Linked DNA regions of Homo sapiens: region 2 is reported to be linked to region 1. The links are microRNA targets in miRTarBase. Many come from high-throughput screens and were not tested one by one. Region 1 holds a microRNA gene; the other region holds the end of a gene's coding sequence.

What was found. The annotated mature microRNA hsa-miR-6782-3p reads CACCUUUGUGUCCCCAUCCUGCA and lies in region 1 at 5,733-5,755, opposite strand. An mRNA with a match to its seed (bases 2 to 7 or 8) in the 3' UTR can be bound and repressed. Matches are read on the target gene's strand: a 7mer-m8 pairs with bases 2 to 8, a 7mer-A1 pairs with bases 2 to 7 and ends in A, and an 8mer does both.
Region 2: miRTarBase lists PAN2 as a target of hsa-miR-6782-3p. Seed matches in the 3' UTR shown: 7mer-m8 at 2,618-2,624.

What each region holds. Positions count from the first base shown.
Region 1 is chr17:44,202,040-44,209,691 of GRCh38, forward strand. It overlaps MIR6782 (microRNA 6782), which reads right to left and starts at 5,800; the gene lies at 5,732-5,800. UBTF (upstream binding transcription factor) reads right to left here. Exons shown (of 21, transcript NM_014233.4): 16 at 7,606-7,652; 17 at 7,313-7,502; 18 at 5,825-5,872; 19 at 5,660-5,731; 20 at 5,415-5,558; 21 at 3,001-5,328. The coding sequence ends at 5,203. The region is part of intron 1 of ATXN7L3-AS1 (ATXN7L3 antisense RNA 1); the gene reads left to right. RefSeq lists enhancers at 4,924-5,424, 6,066-7,265.
Region 2 is chr12:56,314,814-56,317,813 of GRCh38, forward strand. PAN2 (poly(A) specific ribonuclease subunit PAN2) reads right to left here. Exons shown (of 26, transcript NM_014871.6): 26 at 2,123-2,830. The coding sequence ends at 2,796. It overlaps CNPY2 (canopy FGF signaling regulator 2), which reads right to left and starts at 1,175. Exons shown (of 6, transcript NM_014255.7): 1 at 1,008-1,175; 2 at 317-429; 3 at 38-153. The coding sequence starts at 404. RefSeq lists enhancers at 1,160-1,748, 1,249-1,298, 1,379-1,528.

The sequences.
Region 1 (7,652 bases):
TCCTCAAGGGGAATCATTCACCAGACTTATATTTTTAGTGGATCATGCTGGAGTATGGTCTGGAGAATAATTTAGAAGCAGTAGGTTTTTTGTTTTGTTTTGTTTTGTTTTTTTAGACAGCATTTTGCTCTGTCACTCAGGTGCAATCTCAGCTCACGGCAACTTCTGCGTCCCGGGTTCAAGTGATTCTCATGCCTCAGCCTCCTGAATAGCTGGGATTACTGGCGCACGCCACCACGCTCGGCTAATTTTAGTTTTGTATTTTTAGTACAGACAGGGTTGCACCATGTTGGCCAGGCTGGTCTCGAACTTCTGACCTCAGGAGATCCGCCTGCCTCAGCCTCCCAAATGCTGGGATTACAGGCATAAACCACTGGGCCTGGCAAAAGCAGTAGGTTTTTGTTACTGATTGAGGTGTGTGGAGGAAAGGAGAGGGAGGTCTTGAAAACACCTTTACTAGGATGGGGAACTCAGGGGAGGACATGGGAGGACACAGGATGACTTCAGTCTGGGATATATTGAGGTTACTGTGGGATCAGCTGATGGAGACCCAAAAGGTGGTTGAACTCAGGTCTGGCACAGAGAAGTAAGCTAGGTCTTCAGGAACTTCAACAACATCGCCTCAACCTTTGTTTTCTCTTATCTCCCGCCTCCTTTTCAGGAATTCTTCACTCCAGTGATGCTGATCTGTTTCTTACCTAAATATGCCCAGTACATTCTGCCCTAAGGAATTTGCGCCATGGCCAGAAAATCCTCCTGGCTTCTCCCTGTTTACCTAAATCCTTCCTCATATCCCCACCCATGGCCATCCTCATACCAAACTTCTTTACAACTAGACTGTACTATTCATTCTGTGCTTGGCCTGGGCTGCTCTGTGGTGGTGACCTCTTTGGGCACGTGCCCAGTCTCCACAGTTAGCACCAGTTCATAAACACTAAGGCCTGAGCTGGTCCTGACTCTGGGTGAGGCCCTGGGGTTACAGCAACAAGCAAGAGAGACACACAAACCTTGTCCTAGCGCAGCTTACAGCCTAGCAAGGCCTGATGTGAAGGAAATAAGGCCTGAGTGTGAAGGCATTCAGGCTGCTGAAGAAACGTATAGTGTGGAGACCTTTTTTCTCAGGAGTTCAGGGAAGGAAGTGGTCTTTTAAGTGGAGACCAGAATTAACTAGGCAGAGAGAACACCATGTGTATAGGCCCTAGGAGAGAGCATGTTATGTTCGAGACATGAATGGTCAGTGTGGCTAGAGTCGGGGGAGGGCTAACGGGGGCAGCAGATCCCCAAGGGCCTTGTGGGCCAGACCTATTCACCCACTCAGCAAATCTTTCTTGATTGTCAAATGTATATCAGGCAGTTTCAGGTGCTGAGATTACTGTAATGAACAAGCAGATAAGGTGTCTTCTACTTGGGGAGATAGATAATAAACAAATACATAAACAAGAAGATGGAGGAGGCCTCTCTAGAGCAGGTGGTTGGGAAAGGCTTCTCTGTGAGAGGACATGTGAGTTGAGGCTTAAAGAATGAAAAAAAAAAATCAGGTATGTGTAGAGTTGGAGGAATAGCCATTCTAGGCAGAGAGAACAGGTGCCAAGACCCCGCAGGTAGGCATGTTTGAGGAACAGAAGAGATCACTTGGTTGGATCGTTGTAAGTGGTTAGGAAGAGCAGGGTGAGAGAAGATAAGAGAAGGAATGCGGGGGCCAAGCCTTGTAGGGCCATGGTAAGACATGGTAAATTTTCAGTACAGAAATAATCAGATTTATTTCTGAGATAATTTTGGCTGCCATGTGAAGAATGGGCTGTAGGGGGCGAGAGTGGAAGCAGGAAGACCAGCTTTAGGAGGTCTTTGCAGAAGTTGAGCAATGATGGTGGCCTGAAATAGGATGGGAGTGGCAGCTGTGGGAGCCACCCTGTGGGAGGGGTCGACAGATTTGAGACAGCTTTAGGAAGTGGAATGGAGAGGTCTAGGTGATTGAACCTCGAGGTGAAAGGGAGAGAGGAGTCAAGGCCAATACTCTGCTTTCTAGGTTGAACGACTAAGTGTTTGGTAATCATTTCGGGTCTTGAGGTATGAGATGTCTGCAAGATATCCCAGGGGATGCAAGGGTGTCTACACAGGTCTGCAGCTTGGAAGAGCAGTCTCTGTCGGCACCACCTTTCGGAATGGTTGCATATGCGTGATAATGGGAGGTTGAAGGGAGAGACATGAACACCTGGGATAAAATGAGGAAGAGCTGACACCAACAGAGTAGACCAAGAAGGCAAAAGACAAGACAAGTGTTCACCAGATGTAATGAACATGTTGGTGACCTTAGCAAGGAACCTCAAAGGATGGTGGTAAGTGGGAGGCCAAGAGGCACAACAAGCTTTTTAGCAGTTTGGCCACTATAGGATAGGGGCAAGGGCTGGGAGAGAGTTCTCCGACAGGACCTGGGTCTGCAGCCCTTTGAGGTTCCAGGAACCCAGCCAAGGCCTGCGCAGGAAAGGGTGTCTTCCCTTAATCTCAGAGAGTGAGTCATCTCAGCCCAGCCCAGCCTGCTTCCCATCAGAGGCCTAGATGGTCCTAGGAAAGTCATCCTTAACCCTTAACCTTTAACCTGGGATGGAGCTGAAGGCTCAAAGTGAGAGCGTGCTCCCTCAACTCCCCACGATAAGCCCTACACTAGGAAGGCTTGCATGCCCAGGGCGAACCCTTGACCCTAGTAGCTCATCACCTCCAATTCCCCAAGACCATGTACTTTGGGTGAAAATGCATTTGTTCTCCAACTTCTCAGAATCTTTAGTGGTCTCACAACCCAAGGTGAACAAATGGAATTGAGAAAAGGGCAAGAACAGTAGCACAGAACAATGTGAAGGTAGGTTGCCTATGGAATCTTTAGGGAAGAGGAAGATAGTTCTAGGAAGAAAAGGCAAATTGGCTTCAAGCATTTTTATAGATCAAACCTGTTGGGTCACCCCTGTGAACCTTCATTGATTCCAGTGACCAGACAGCAGTCAAACCTTTGTTTTTCACTTTATTATACAAAAAAGGGAAAACAAAACTTCCACAGTTGGCTTTAAGCATAGGCAGACACCTCTAAGCCACTCCCTCCCACCTCCCATGATACAAATTCAAGTTGTGGTGGTTGTTGAATCCTACAAAACACTCCTTAAATATTAGAAAAGAAGTTGGGGGTGGGGATGGGGGTCTTCCCACCCCAGCCATCCCATCCCAGTGCCAAAATGCACTCAAGAGTGACCTCTTACAGCACCAACACCCCCACCCTGACAGTCCTGTTTGTACTGTAAGAATTTTTCAATTTTTAAAACAGGAAAGAAAAAGTGCCCCATTCAAAGTTGTTTTTAAATGAAAATACATTCCACTGAAACACAACAGTGTAGGGGCATCCAAATAGGAAACTGGGGTTCTTTGCAGGGCTCTTGGGAAGAAATAGAACCTATAAACCCCTGTACTTAATTCCAGGATTAGGACAAAGGAAGGGGAATGGGAGTGGGGAGTGTCCCCCCCAGGCCTCCCCACCCCCAGCACCAAGGTCCAAGGCAAAGCAGAGACTGTCTGCCTTCCTTTGGGAGAGGGACCCACCAGCCTCTCTGGGACCAGGGCCCTTCACCGTTCTTGCTCCACCTCCGCGGCAGAGTTCCCGCTCTTCCCCCATTCCTTGGCTTTCATTCAGAGGGGGAAGGTGGAAAAGCACCAAGCCCCAATTTAATAGGTCAGTGACATGACCATAAAAAAGAACCCCCCAAATTTAGTCAACAAAAAAATAAGAACTACAGAGATAAGGTGGCTTGGCTTATTAAGAGTCAAGGAATCAAGGTACCAAAAAATACGGGAGATGGCTGGGAAGAGTTAGAGACAGCTGCAGATGCAGCTTTTGCAGACTTCTTGCCCAGCTGTGGGGTTGGGGGAGGAGGGAGCAGACCTGAGAAATTAAAGGAAATAGGGGGTGGTGGGAGGATTCAAGGAAGGCTGGAGGGATGTGTAAGTTAGGAGCTCCCAGCACATTTCTTGAAGCCCAGGTTCTGAGCCTGGGGTGGCCAGGCTTGGCCTCTCAGATGAACAGGGGAGACCTTTTCCATCAAATACAAGCTTTAAGCTTCACACCATCTTGCCTGCCTTTCCGCCTTCCTGCTGGACAATGGAGACCAGCAGCTCGGATGCATGTGACTCTGGCAGAGGGAGCCTGGTCTGGGAAGCATCCGAGAATGGCTTCAGCACACTCCCCCTAATGGAATCAGAGACTGGGCAAAACAGAGGATGTGGAGAACGGGGCAGCCTCAGCCTGCTCCCACCAGGGTCAACATCTCCCGGCCCTCACCGACCCTTTTTCCAGATTCACAACAAACTGATGTGGGCTCTAGGACAGACCCCTTTACACACACACACACACACTCACACTCTTTTGCACACATCCACAGCTGCACCCATGCTATGTACAGGAACACACATACACATACTCTCTTCCACATACATCAAGACCATTTTTAAAAGGTTCCAAATCTACCCCTAAACCCTCCCTCTCCCAGAAATGACAACAGAGACGGCAGCCGAGATCGGTAGGAAACGTCTCGTTGACAGCTCAGAGCTTAAAAAAAAATATATACACATATATAAAAAACACTTCTGCCCCCTCCCCCATGAACGGGTCCAGGCAGCTCCTTCCTGCAGGGGGCAGGGGAGAGGGCCACCAGGGCAGTGCCTGTTTTCTTGAAGGCACCGACCCTCCTCCTCCCCATGTTCCCTGCCTCCAGTTCCAATGCAGGGGTCCAGGTGGCAGGCCCCTCTGGGAAGGAATGGGTCTTCCCCAAGCTTCCACCCCACCTTGGATTGGGCCGCAGGTGTGGAGGGCCTCATCAAACTCTTTGGGACCCCCCACCCCCACTCTCCGGTCCATTGTCCATGCCGGAACCGCAAGTGCAGAAGTGGGTGGGGTGGGCCAGGCTGGTCCGGTGCTGGCTTAGTCTGATAGTTGCTGTCCCTGGAGGAGGACCCCCAAGGGCTGATGTCTCTGAGGCTGCAGAGTCCTGGCCTGGGCTCCTCCAGCCCCCTACCCCCACCGTATTTTTTTTTTTTTTTAAAGAAAGAAAGAAAGTGGGGGAGGCCAGGGGGGCAAGGGACAGAACATGGGGGAGAAACAAAGGTGGTCAGTTGGGGAGGGGAGCTCCTGGGCTCTCCCTGGCTGCCCTGGGGTGGGGCTGAGCCTCAGTTGGAGTCAGAGTCTGAGGAGTCCCCTGAGGAGGAGGAGCTGGAGCTGCTGCCCTCGGACTCATTATCTTCATCCTCATCGTCATCCTCGTCGTCGTCTTCGTCCTCGTCATCCTCTTCATTCTGGGGGGTGAGAAAGGATGTGGAGTCACCAGGTGGCCCTCCTGGCAGGACTCCCCTCCCCTCCCACTGTGCCCTGTCTGCCCCACCTCATCCCCATCCTCGCTCTCGTCCTCGCTGCTGGACTCAGAGGAGTCGCCGCCATCTTCAGAGGAGTCCCCATTCTCATCATCTTCCTCTTCTTCATCCTCGTCCTCGTCATCCTCATCCTCTTCATCATCCTCCTCGGACTCCTTGGAGGGATGGAGGCACATCAGTGGTCTCTGGTCTCTGCCCAACCATTCCAGGCAGTGCCCCCCGCCCCACGCCCCTGCATCTGGGAGGGGCTCCTTACCGACTTGGACTGCAGAGTAGTCCGGCTGGATTTGGGGTTTGGGCCTCGCAGCTTGGTCATGCTCTTACGTTTCTGCAGGATGGGGACACAAAGGTGGCAGCCATGAGTTCGACACCCCTGAATTCCCCCACCCCTACCCCACTGCTGCTCTGCTCCCAGACTCACATTGGAGATGTACTCTTTATATGCTGCACGGTCCTGGGGAGACAGGCTCTGGGGGAGACAGAAGCGGCAAGGGTTGGAACATAGCCAACTACTGCTGACTGAGCATGCTGGCCCAGTGCTAGGCAGTGGGCTGAGCATTTATATATCATCACCCCATCTTACCCCTCCCAGGCTCCCTAGATTTTGGGTCTCTGCAGAGAGCCCCTGGGATCTGAGAACACAGCTCTAATTTTTTTTTTTTTTTTTTTTTTTTTTTTGAAACAGGGTCTTGCTCTGTCACCCAGGCTGGAGTGCAGTGGCACAATCTCAGCTCACTGCAGCCTTGACCTTCCCAGGCTCAAGTGATCCTTCCAACTCAGCCTCCAGAGTAGCTGGGACTACAGGCATGTGCCACCACACCATGCTACCTTATAATTTTTTGTAGAGACAGCAATCTCACTATGTTGCCCAGGATGGTCTTGAACTCCTGGCCTCAAGTGATCCTTCATACCTTGGGCTCCCAAAGTGCTAGGATTACAGGCGTGAGCCACTGCGCTGGCCCAAACCCTAGTATTTCTGCTTCTGATACCCAGAGTCCTTCTCTAAACCACTAAGACTATTGGTTTTCACATTTTCCCTGTTGCTTTTCGCAAATGGAAGCTCCTATCAGAGTCTTCCTCACTCCAAAGAAGTGCCCCCGTGATGAGTCAGCCTGGCATCATCAACCACACCCCAACACCAAACCCTTGAGCCATCGATGAGGCAGTGGGGCTCACCAAACTCCTGAAACAGCAAATCCCCACAGTCTTCCTGGGTCCTTGGCCAACCTGCCTTGGTGAGTGGGAAGGACACAGGTGATTCTCTCCACTTTACAGATCTGACTACTCAACCAAAGCACAGAGGGGAAGCACAAAGGCCAGGAGTCTAGGAGAGGTCCCGTGGTCCCAGATGGGGGAGGAAAAGGCAGTCTGATTTGGATTCTTCTACTTACTGTGTGACCTTGGGCAAGTTACTTAACCTCTCTGAGCCTTGGTTTCCTTATTTTTAAAAGGGTGATAGTGGCTGCGGACGGTGGCTCAAGCCTGTAGTCCCAGTGCTTTGGGAGGCCGAGGTGGGCGGATCACATGAGGTCAGGAGTTCGAGACCAGCCTGCCCATCTCTACTAAAAATACAAAAATTAGCCAGGTGTGGTGGTACATGTCTGTAGCCCCAGCTACTCTGGAGGCTGTGGAAGGAGAATCGCTTGAACCTGGGAGGTGGAGGTTGCAGTGAGCCGAGACTACACCACTGTACTCCAGCCTGGGCAGGAGAGCAAGACTGTCTCAAAAAATAAAAAAAAAAATAAAAATAAAAGGGTGATAGTGACCGTTATCCTGAAGGATTGCGAGGGCATGGAATGAAATCATGAATGAGACCAGCCAGCACAAGTGGGTGGATGGGCCAGGCTAGGATGGTGCTGGCTTAGTCTGATGCCTCTCTGTTCCTTCCAAGGGTCCCTTGCCCTCTCACCTTAACCCAGAGGTCCAGGTGCACCTTGTACTGCTTTTGCTGCTCCTCGGCCAGCTTTTTGTAGTGCTCCTTCTGGCTCTGGGAGATGCGCTGCCAGCGACTGCCGATCTCCACCATGCGCTCCTTCAGCGGCAGGTGGTTCAGCTCCCCATTGGACAGCAGCTCCTGGGAGAACTTCTGGTAACCGTTCCTGGGAGGTGGGTTGGTAGAAGGAGGGTCAGGACCCCAACAAAGCAGCCATCCAGCCCTGACCCTCCCCGACCTCCAGGGCAGACTCCAACCCCCAGGCTCACATGGGAGGCTTCTTGGGTTCTCCCTGGAATTTCATCTTCTTGGAAGA
Region 2 (3,000 bases), not on the chromosome of region 1:
AGTGAGCTACTTTGTTTGGGGGAACAGTAACAGTTACCTCCACCACTGACTGGCTGCCATCTGGATTGATCCGGAAAGATCCCATCTGAATGGTCTTCTTGGGGTCCACCTGGGCAATTTCCCATTCTAGTTCATCCACCAGAGCCCTGCATGCTGGTGGAAGAGGAGAGAATGAGAGCAGGGGACAGGGTAGGGGGTAGGGTGTGAGGAGAATGGGATCAACCCAGGATTTCCATTCATCCTTCTCCCAGGCCTTGGATCTCATGCCCTCCCAAGGCTCTGCTTCCTCCACTTCTTTTTCCCGTTGTGCCTTTACCTCCACAGTGGAGATCCTGGCTCCTCCGAGCCCAGGCGGTTCCCAGCAGGGCCCCCAGAAGCAGGGCCAGCCAACCCCAGCCTTTCATCTTTAGCGTAATGGGGTCGCTCCACCTGGGTTTGAGTGGGAATAAAACATAAGTGTGAGGAGCCGACTCCATTTTTCCCTGACCCCCCCAATCCTCACCCCAAGGCTTTCAAAGGCCTCATTGTGACTCTGGCTCTACTTTCCAGGAAATGGCCGGGACACAAAGGGGCTTCTCTGTTCCAGCGCTTGAGGGCTCTGATTCCCCCAGGGTGGTGGGTGGGAGCGCGAGCTCAGGACTTGCGGCTCAGCCCCAGACTCTACGTGGATAGGTGAGGCCCTAAGTGTTGGTACTTTAGCACTGCATGCCTAGGGTTCACGGGGCTTTGTGGCAGCTACAGGAGGTAAGTTGGCGATTACGTGAGGACTACAGGCACTAGGGAACTGCCGGCAGGGAGCCCTCAGTCAGGCCAGGAGGCCAGCGAGGAGAGCAATAACTAGGGCCCATTTGGATCCTGCACCGAAGATTCCTGCGTCCCCACCTCCAGCCCGTAAGTGATTACCCGTACGGACACCAGCCCCCTTTCTAAGGACTCCGCCATTGCTTTCGCTTCAGTCCATCCCCAACCCTCAGCGCCCAGCGCCTCGCCGCCCGCATCCGTCCCACCTCTGCTCCCAGGGCCGCCGCCGTGGCCCAAGCGCTGGAAGACCGCTGGACTCTCACTTTGGCCCCAGTGGCTCCCGAAACTACACCTGGCTGCAGGGAGCAGGGCTGTCCGGGATTCTCCAGAGCGCTTCGCCGCCTGCCACACACGGGGTGTCCCGGCGACCGCCTGACCCAGCTCCCCTGACGCTAACTGGTACCTAAGCGGGACTCCAGCGTGCTGCGGTGCGAGCCCCAATCAGACACCGACCCCAAACCCGCCCCTCCAAACTCTCGCGCGAACAGGCAGCTTAGGAGAGGCTCCCGAACAGCAAGGACCCCGGTCAATCGCCGAAGGACCCAGACTTGCGTGGCGAACAGATCCACGTGACCACCAGGGGTCAGCCGTAGAATAGGAGTGGCCTTAAGCGACGACAGAGTCCGGGCGTGCTGTATGGGAGCGGCTAGTCGTGCGCGTGAGCCAGCCCAGGTGGGCTAGGACCTTCAAAACGGTGCGCTGCCGGCCAGCGAGCAGTCCAGGTTTCAATACACAGGAAACTACATCTCCCAGGAAGCACCGCAGCACCGGACCCATCTTTGTGAGCAACTACAAGTCTCAAGCTATCCTGGGACCTGTAGTTTGTCGGCTTACACAATTAACGGAAACCATACTGTACATCTTCAGTCTGACTTAGGGTACTGGGCAGCTATAGCAAAGACCCAGCATTGCCCAGAAAAGGCATAAATTATACCTTTTTCCCCTTTTTTTGAGACGGAGTCTCGCCCTATCGCCCAGGCTGGCATACAGTGGCGTGATCTCGGCTCACTGCAACCTCCGCCTCCCGGGTTGAAGCAATTTTCTGCCTCAGCTAGGGTTACAGTCGCCATCCACCACTCCCAGCTAATTTTTGTATTTTTAGTAGAGACGGGGTTTCACCATCTTGGTCAGGCTGGTCTTTAACTCCTGACCTCGTGTTCCACCCACCTCTGCCTCCCAAAGTGCTAGGATTACAGAAGTGAGCCACCGCGCCCGGCCTAATTATACCCTTTCATATCCATAACTTTGGATTCCGGACCTTTACCTTCAAAGGAAGGAGAGGAAGACTGAAGCCAGAGAACCCACACTAGCAGTTCTCTAATGAGATAAATAACAAACGATATTTTATTTTTATTTTATAAAACATGCAGTTTACAACAAATTTTTAAAAAATGGAACAAAACTTGGGACAGGCAAGTGGGATGGAAGACAGATGCTTCTCAGCCATCAGCAGGAATAAATGAAGCCGGCAGCCAAGCTTTGTCCAGGATCCAAAGGCCCTTTTGGCAATGGTATTGGCAACACTGGTTTGCTTGGGCCACCAACACTCTACTTGCTGGCCCCTCCAGGTATCCCTGAAGCAGTTGGTGACTTGTGCTAAGTCTTGAACTACTGTGGTATCCTCTGTCACTGTCCAGGACTTCAATCCCTAGCCAGCTAGGAACTTACAGTTATGGTTCCAGGAGCTTCTCTGCCTGGATATTAGTCACCCAGGATATTAAGAATACCAATTACTTTCCATCTGGGTCAATTCTAGACTCCATGTCTGTACCACTGTTTTGCAAAGAATGAAGAAGGAATGAATCTGGCTCCTAGAACCTTTGCAACAATTCTGCTGTGTTCCAGTTCAATTAATAGCACCATCTGTGACCCTAGACCCTGAGCACGTCCAGTACTGGAAGTGGACAAGGTATAGCCAACTTAGGAAGCCATCTCCCAGTTCTGGGGCTATAGAACAGTAAAGGGAGAGGGCCGTGGTTCTTTGGGAAGGGTAGTCAGAGCGCCAGCACTGAGGAGAAGACAGCTGCATCTGTCAGAGACAAAACCAAAAGCATGATTCAAGCTGAGTGGAGAAAAAGCATCTTCTCATACTTCCTATGAAGGAAAAATGCAAGAGAAAAAAGGGCATGGACCTTCCCTGAACATTTTAGACTTGGGCAAGAGGAAGTTATAGTTAATGGAGAGTTTCGATAAAATGTA